2 linked regions of the Homo sapiens genome follow. The protein of the gene in region 1 interacts with the protein of each later gene in a pairwise test. Each region holds a gene or a part of one and is shown on either strand. Other genes may lie near its edges. The genes, in order: ARFGAP3 and RAB6A.

Evidence for each region.
Region 2: the proteins of ARFGAP3 (region 1) and RAB6A interact in binary tests that used the Homo sapiens proteins (3 or more experiments, as listed by UniProt).

Annotation. Positions count from the first base shown.
Region 1 is NC_000022.11:42,812,166-42,815,990, forward strand, and holds part of ARFGAP3 (ADP-ribosylation factor GTPase-activating protein 3), read right to left. Parts: intron 1-3,825.
Region 2 is NC_000011.10:73,719,475-73,723,299, forward strand, and holds part of RAB6A (ras-related protein Rab-6A), read right to left. Parts: intron 1,426-3,825; coding exon 1,372-1,425; intron 1-1,371. UniProt on the Homo sapiens protein: The small GTPases Rab are key regulators of intracellular membrane trafficking, from the formation of transport vesicles to their fusion with membranes.

The sequences.
Region 1 (3,825 bases):
AGTGAGCCATGATCATGCCACTACACTCCAGCCTGGGTGACAGAGTGGGATACTGTCTCAAAAAAAAAAAAAAAAAAAAAAAGGGACTGTGCCATGCCAGAATTCACGATAGCTTAGGATGGAAAAGCAGTCTGGCCAGATATACACACCTCATTAAGGCAGTCCAAGAAGTTCAGAGGAGAGAGGCAGATCCCAGGGAGGTCTTAGGAAAGGAAGGGTGACAGAAGAGAATGCAGAGGCCTTAACAGACATCATCCAGGTTTTCTCCAGAGAGTAAGGACAGGAAGCACACTGGAAATAAGATGAGCACCAAGCTCCGTGCTATAAGGAGTTGCACAGAAGATGCAGATCATAGGAGGTCAGAGGGGCCAGTAACCAAAGGCCAATATAAGAGGGAAGCAAGAACCCATAAGAGCAAAGAGGCCAGGGACCTCGGTGAGCTAAGATCTGGGTGGGGGAAATGCTAAGAACACATTTACTCTTTCTTGGCAGAAAACAAAACGAAACAAAAAAGGGACAGAGGATAAACTGCTGTTGGAGCAGATGGTATGATATTACATCCTTAATAGACAGAAAGTAGAATTTCTAAATGTGGCTTCTGCCTTCTCTGGCAAGAAGGTCATTAAGAACAAATCTCATGACACTAGCATCTACTCCTTAGGAAGGAAAACGTGGTGTTCAAAGTGTATCTGGATTTCAGCTAGAAACCGACCAGGCTCTCCCTATGGCGGATGAGTGGATCTGTACTGCACCCAGGCTCTGCCTGGAGGAAGAGAGATGACCGATCCCCTTTCAGAGAAGAGAGATCAGGACACTGAAGGAACCGGAAGTTACATCGGAGGAAGGTTCAAAAGATGTGGGATGTGTGCTGGCCTGCAAGGTGATATTCACATGTTTGAGGGACTTATTTTAAGGCACCATGAAAGAACTAAGATCAATTCAGTGAGGAATTTTAAAACTACTTAATAAGCACCTACGAGGAGTCAGGCACTCTGCTAGGGGAAGACAAAGGGCAAGAAGACACATTCAGCTCCTGCCCTCATGAGGCTTGGGAACTGACTTATGGAAGGGAGGCTGACTTGAATGCAGAAGCCTCAGAAGCTGCATTAATGAAAGGCAGAGTTTCTCACGGAGCTGACCTGGGACCAAATGGCTGCCTTGAGGAGAAGGAAGGGTGTAGTAGAGGCTGGACTGCCCTGGAGTGGGAAGAGGGGGGTCAGCACTGGACTGGTGCAGGGTGAGGGTGGGGTGGAACTTCCAGGTTCTTCATGACTCTGTGATACTAAATTTTGTAGATTTAGCAACACTCTAAGGAAATAACATTCTTCATTCTTATAAGCCAATGTACTTATCCTGAAATGTAGAGGAATCAGATTACTTTTAAGTGACTGAACTATTCAGAAGTCAAAGAAGAGAGACAGCCATCGGCTTGGGTCCCCCTGACCAGCATGAGCCTGTGAGGCAGCAGTCCATGCGTGGGCTGGCTGGCGGCTTCTCTGTCTTCCAGTCATCCACGAGAGGCTCTCTGTGCTCATGCTAAGCAGGAGCAACTCAGTAGGAGGACTGGCAACTCACTAAGAGGACCGACAGACCACCAGCCAGGACTCCAGCTGACCTTTGGAAGGATGGGGTGAGTGGGACGACTAACGGCCACTAGTCCCTGCTCAGAAACACACAGACTTTCCTTCCTCATCTCCAAACCTTTATTGGCTTTCTAATGTTTTGATTGTATAGCTCTCAATGCTTTTTTACTTTTATTTTTCCCCTCCCACTCTGTCTTTACCCAATCTTGAAAACATTCCTTAAAATCCCTTGATAAGAGCACCCTAATATCACATTTGCTCTGATTTAGAGCTATAGACAGTTGTCTATTCTAATTAAGGCCATGCTGGCTTTATAAGGCTGAGCAAATTGTTCTAGTTTCATTATCTTGTACTCAATATATAATTATACTGTTTATATCCTAGAAATAATGGAACTCAATAATAAAAAAAAACAAGGACAGGTTTTATCTTATTTTTAACAGAAACAGAACTCTTTCATAATTCATAATGTTCAAGTTCTAATGGGCTAATGAATAATTTGAAAGCAATAAGAGCTCTTCATCGAACTAATATATTTGCTTTCAGAGTCCATGTTTATTTTACCTCAGTTGCCAAAGTACCTAATAGTATCCTCATTCTACTAGTGGTGGTCACCATGCCAAGGAGGACTAGAGAAGGCATTTATGTTCCTATTAGACAATCTGCAGGTCGTGATAAACAATACACCAAGGTCTCTCTGGAAAGAGTCCAGGAGGTGTGGTCTATATAAATATGCCATCTGCTCCCAGGTTTCAAACCATAAGTAACAGTTTCATAGCAACAGTGGCTTCTGGGTCTAACTCTTTTGATTAAGCCTTTGAAGAAGGGGAAGTCTGAAAGATCCCTGAAGCCTTTACAAGGCAGAAAGGCCCCACAGGGGCCTGTCAGTGACCTGGAGCCAGTGAGGGTCTCTGAAGTTCCCATTAGGCAACCTCACTTAGAGCTTTCTTACCAACCCGGCTACCAAGCAACAGTACTGATTTAACTGAAACTTTCTCTTTTTTTTGAGAGAGGGTCTTGCTCTGTTGCCCAGGCTGGAGTGCAGTGGTGCAATCTAATCTCACTGTAACCTCTGCCTCCCAGGCTCAAGTGATCCTCCACCTCAGCCTCCCAAGCAGCTGGGACTACAGGCATGTCCACCATGCTAGGCTAATATTTTTGAAATTTTTTGTAAAGATGAGGTCTCACTATATTTCCCAGTCTGGTCCTGAATTCCTGGGCTCGAGTGATCCTCCTGCCTTGGCTTCCCAAAGTGCTGGGATTATAAGTGTGAGCCACCATGCCCAGCCTAAACTTTCTTTACCTTCCTACACTATCATCTGCAGAAGTTGCTAATAAGCAGTGAAATAATCAAAGATGTTGTGAGAAGCCACACAGGCTAATACAGACCCGTACTGCCAAGAGTTTCCTCTGACCCAGACTTAGTCCACCATTTAATATTCACATCTGAAATGATCTGACACGTATGTAGTTTCCAAATCAAATTACACATTTAATTTTACTCTGTGTAAAATCTATTTACATACCTTTAAAAGGCATGATTTGGGTATCACTTCTGAGTAAAGTGAAACTTGGTGCATTATACAGGCTGCAAAGGATAGGCAAAAATATAAAACCACCCAAGTCTCTGAAAATACCACCATGGAACACCACTAAACTACTACTTTTTTTTTTTTTTTTGGTAAAATCCCTGGACTTGAAATAATTTAGAGCTATACTTAGAGACATTTTTAAGGATAGTATTCTTTATACAATTCCTTGTCTATAAACATTGATAGGAAAATATACAATTTCACAATTAGATCCTAGGTAATATATTTATATCTGTTCTATATATGAAGTGCATGTGTGTGGGTGTGTATATATACACACACACATATATATCTTTTATACATATGAAAACGCTTCAAACCTATAAATTGCCAGACAACTCTAATGCCCTCAGAGACATAAGTGATGGAGCCTTCCAGTAAGCACCGCCCATTTCCGACAGGAACACCTTCAGTTTTCATGAACTGCTAACCCAAAGGTGGTCCTCAATGTGGTTAGTTTAACTACCTAACAATAGTAATCAAACATTTAGGCTGGGCGTGGAGGCTCATGCCTGTAATCTCAGCACTTTGGGAGGCTGAGGCCAGCAGATCACTTGAAGTCAGGGGTTTGAGACCAGCCTGGCCAACATGGCGAAACTCCATCTCTATTAAAAATACAAAAAATTAGCCGGGTATGGTGGCACACGCCT
Region 2 (3,825 bases), on another chromosome or scaffold:
GTAACAAAAAGGAGGAAGATCTTTTTGCAGCCCTACATAAAAATGTCTTTACGTACTATCCATATCTATATTACAGGAAGAAAAGCCTGAAAACAAGTATCAAGTTCTTGCATCATGATAAAGTCGTTTCCAAGCTTTCAAATTTTTTTTTTTTTTTTTAGACAGACTCTCATTCTTGTCGCTCAGGCTGAAGTGCAGTGGTGTGATCTCGGCTCACTGCAACCTCTGCCTCCCGGGTTCAAACGATTCTCCTGCCTCAGCCTCCCGAGTAGCTGGGATTACAGGCGCCCGCCACCACGCCCAGCTAATTTTTGTATTTTTAGAAAAGATGGGGTTTCGCCATGTTGGCCAGGCTGGTCTTCAACTCCTGACCTCAGGTGATCTGTCCATCCTGGCCTCCCAAAGTGCTGGGATTACAGGCGTGAGCCACCACACCTGGCCGCTTTCAAATTTTAAGAAATGACATGCTATATATCAAAACATAAAAGAGAATATTCAGGAAAAAAAAAACACCTAAGAAATAACACTGGAAATTAAATAATGTTTTTGGGTGCAGGTCTCAAAGTACTGCATTTAAGATATTCACTGTTTAGGTGACAAGTATCTCTTCAAGGGGTAGTGGGCTAGAATACAGATTTTACACTGTATTTAAAGAAAACATTCCAAAGGATGAAAGACAAAAATCCAACAAATAAATACACATTACTTTTTTTTTTTTTTTTTGCAACGGAGTTTCGCTCTTGTTGCCCAGGCTAGAGTGCAATGGCGCAATCTCAGCTCACTGCAACCTCTGCATCCTGGATTCAAGCGATTCTCCTGCCTCAGCCTCCCAAGTAGCTGGGATTATAGGCGCCCGCCACCACGCCTGGCTAATTTTTTGTATTTTTAATAGAGATGGGGTTTCATCATGTTGGCCAAGCTGGTCTCAAACTCCTGACCTCAGATGATCCACCTGCCTCAGCCTCCCAAAGTGCTGGGATTACAGGTGTGAGCCACCGCACCCTGCCCACATAACTTCTTTTTTGTCAGTCACTTTGATACGCATCCTATCCTGACAAAAAAAATCTTGAAGTTCACAAATTGAAATCTTTTTGAATGCCTCAAGGGTGGCATTTAGAAGGTCTTTAGCAGGTTTAATTTCTTCATAAAAATTCTCCTTTAATTCTCTGTAAAGCTCTTTGTTTTCATTTTTCCAAATCAAGATGACTGCCAAGTACTACTCACTCGGTAATAAGAGTTTTTCTCAACAACTGTAAACTATCTTTGGTAACTTTGCTAAGTACTTCTTATGGTGACAATCATTGATAACTTTGATTGCAGTTTTCTAACCTGGAATGTTGCAGAAAATTGCACACTGAAAATATTACTCACTGTTCGATCCTCCAAGTACATAGTTTTTGATAAAAAGTCAATGCCAATTGTTGCCTGTAAAACAAAACAAAGAAGTTAACAAATAATAAGTTTAATGGTGGCCAGCAGTTTAGGATTCAAATGGGATTCATGATTGTGGAAGAAATAATGAATAAACAAATCAATACAACATAGTCAATTAAGGACAATTAAGGACAAACAAAATTTCCAGTGATAATGATTTTCATGTATTCAGCACTTGCTTCATATCAGAGATTGTTTTAAGCCTTTTACATGATCATCTCTAATCTTTATACATTCCTGCCAGGTAGCTTATTCTCATCCCTACTTTTCTCATTTTACAAATAACAAGACAATGGCAACTTTGGTTTAAATATTTGTATTTGAACTTTAGTTTGAGTATCTGATTGTTCTCCACTCAGAATGGTAAGTATCTGCCCCAAGAGCAGTTTTATAAAATACTGTTGATATATTGTCAACTGTCCTAATGCCATAGACAGCCAGAGACTCACAAACATCATAACTTTCCATAAGAGACATGATTTTTCCAATATAAAATAAAAGTCATTAGGTAAGGAAAACAAGTTTTCCTCTGTACCACACAATGATAGCTTCCTTCTGTGGTGAAAACAAATGTAAAGTTCTATTGCCTGGCTGCTGTTTTCCCTATCAAGAGAAAATGGTGAAATAATAAGAGAATAGAAAGAAGGCAGACTACAAAAAAGAAAGGAAAAAAAGTATACAAGTTAAAAAACAGTCCAGTATTAATTAGGGGAGATAAATAAAAAGAATGGAAGAAAGACAGACTCCAGAAAGAGGATGTTGATATGGACTCTATTTTAGAAGTTTTACCACCTCATTAATGTTTGTGTGCACATATACTATGTATATATGTGCGTGTACATACATACTTTTTCCCTAAATATCTTTGTGCCATATTCCTTAAAACAGAAACTGAGTCTGTGCATTTTAAAATATGAGTCACTAAGAATTTTAAGTTCCTAAAAAACAATCAAAAACTAGATCAGAAAAGTGGTCCATCAGTTGGGGATTTTATTTCTGTTAGCAGAAAAATAGAATTTTGTGTGTGTCATAGTTGAGTTCTCACGAGATCTGATGGTTTTATAAAAGGATTTCCCCTCTCTTTGCTCTGTGCTTCTCCTTGTTGCTGCCATGTGAAGAAGGACATGTTTGCTTCCCCTTCTGCCATGATTGTAAGTTTCCTGAGGCCTCCCCAGCCATGTGGAACTTGAGTCTATTAAACCTCTTTCCTTTATAAATTACCCAGTCTTGGGTTATCTCTTTATTAGCAGCATGAGAACAAACTAATACATGTGTCTCCTTTAATTTCTCCCAGCAGTGTTTTGTATAGTCTTATGCTGTTTGTTAAATTTGTTCCTAAGTATTTTATTCTTTTCTGATGCTTCCGTAAATAAAATTCAAATATATATGTGTGTGTGTATATATATATATATATATATATATATATATATATATATTTTTTTTTTTTTTTTTTTTTTTTGAGACAGTCTCACACTCTTGCCCAAGCTGGTATATAGGGGTGTGATTTTGTCTCAGTGCAGCCTCAACCTCCTGGCTCAAGCAATCCTCTCGAGTAGCTGGGACTACAGGTGCATGCCACCATGCCCCACTAATTTCTGTATTTTTTTATAGAGACAGGGTTTTGCCATGTTGTCCAGGCTAGTCTGGAACCCCTAGGTTCAAGAGATCTTCCCCACTTGGCCTTCCAACACGCTGGGACTATAGGCATGAGCCACTACACCCTGCCTAAAGATAATATCTTTATATGAAAAATCAATGCAATGTTGATAAGTCTTTACATGTTTTTACATATATTCAAGAATGAAAGCTACAGTAAATTACATAAATTGATTATCTACTAAGTGCCGATTTATACACATTGCCCCATTTAGTTCTCATTTATTCGTTCATCGATTATTTATTTATTTATTTATTTAGAGACAGAGTCTCGCTCAGTCGCCCAGGCTGGAGTGCAGTGGCGTGATCTCGGCTCACCGCAATTTCTGCCTCCTGGGTTCAAGCAATTTTAGTGCCTCAGCCTCTCAAGTAGCTGGGATTACAGGCATTCACCACCAAGCCCAGCTACTTTTTGTATTTTTAGTAGAGATGGGGTTTTGTCATGTTGGACAGGCTGGTCTCGAACTCCTGGCCTCAAGTGATTCCCCCCGACCTCGGCCTCCCAAAGTGCCAGGATTATAGGCATGAGCCAATGTGCCCAGCTTGCTCATCAAATATTTATTAAGCACGTACTTGCAAGTACTGTGTAAGGTACTAGAGTGATGAACAAACATGCAGTTAGTCTCTACCCAAATTGGACGGAACACATTTAAAAATCATGTACACCTGTCCACATTCATCAGGAATATTTATTGAACTCTATTCCTTCCAAATACTGGGGGGGAAAAAAAGAAA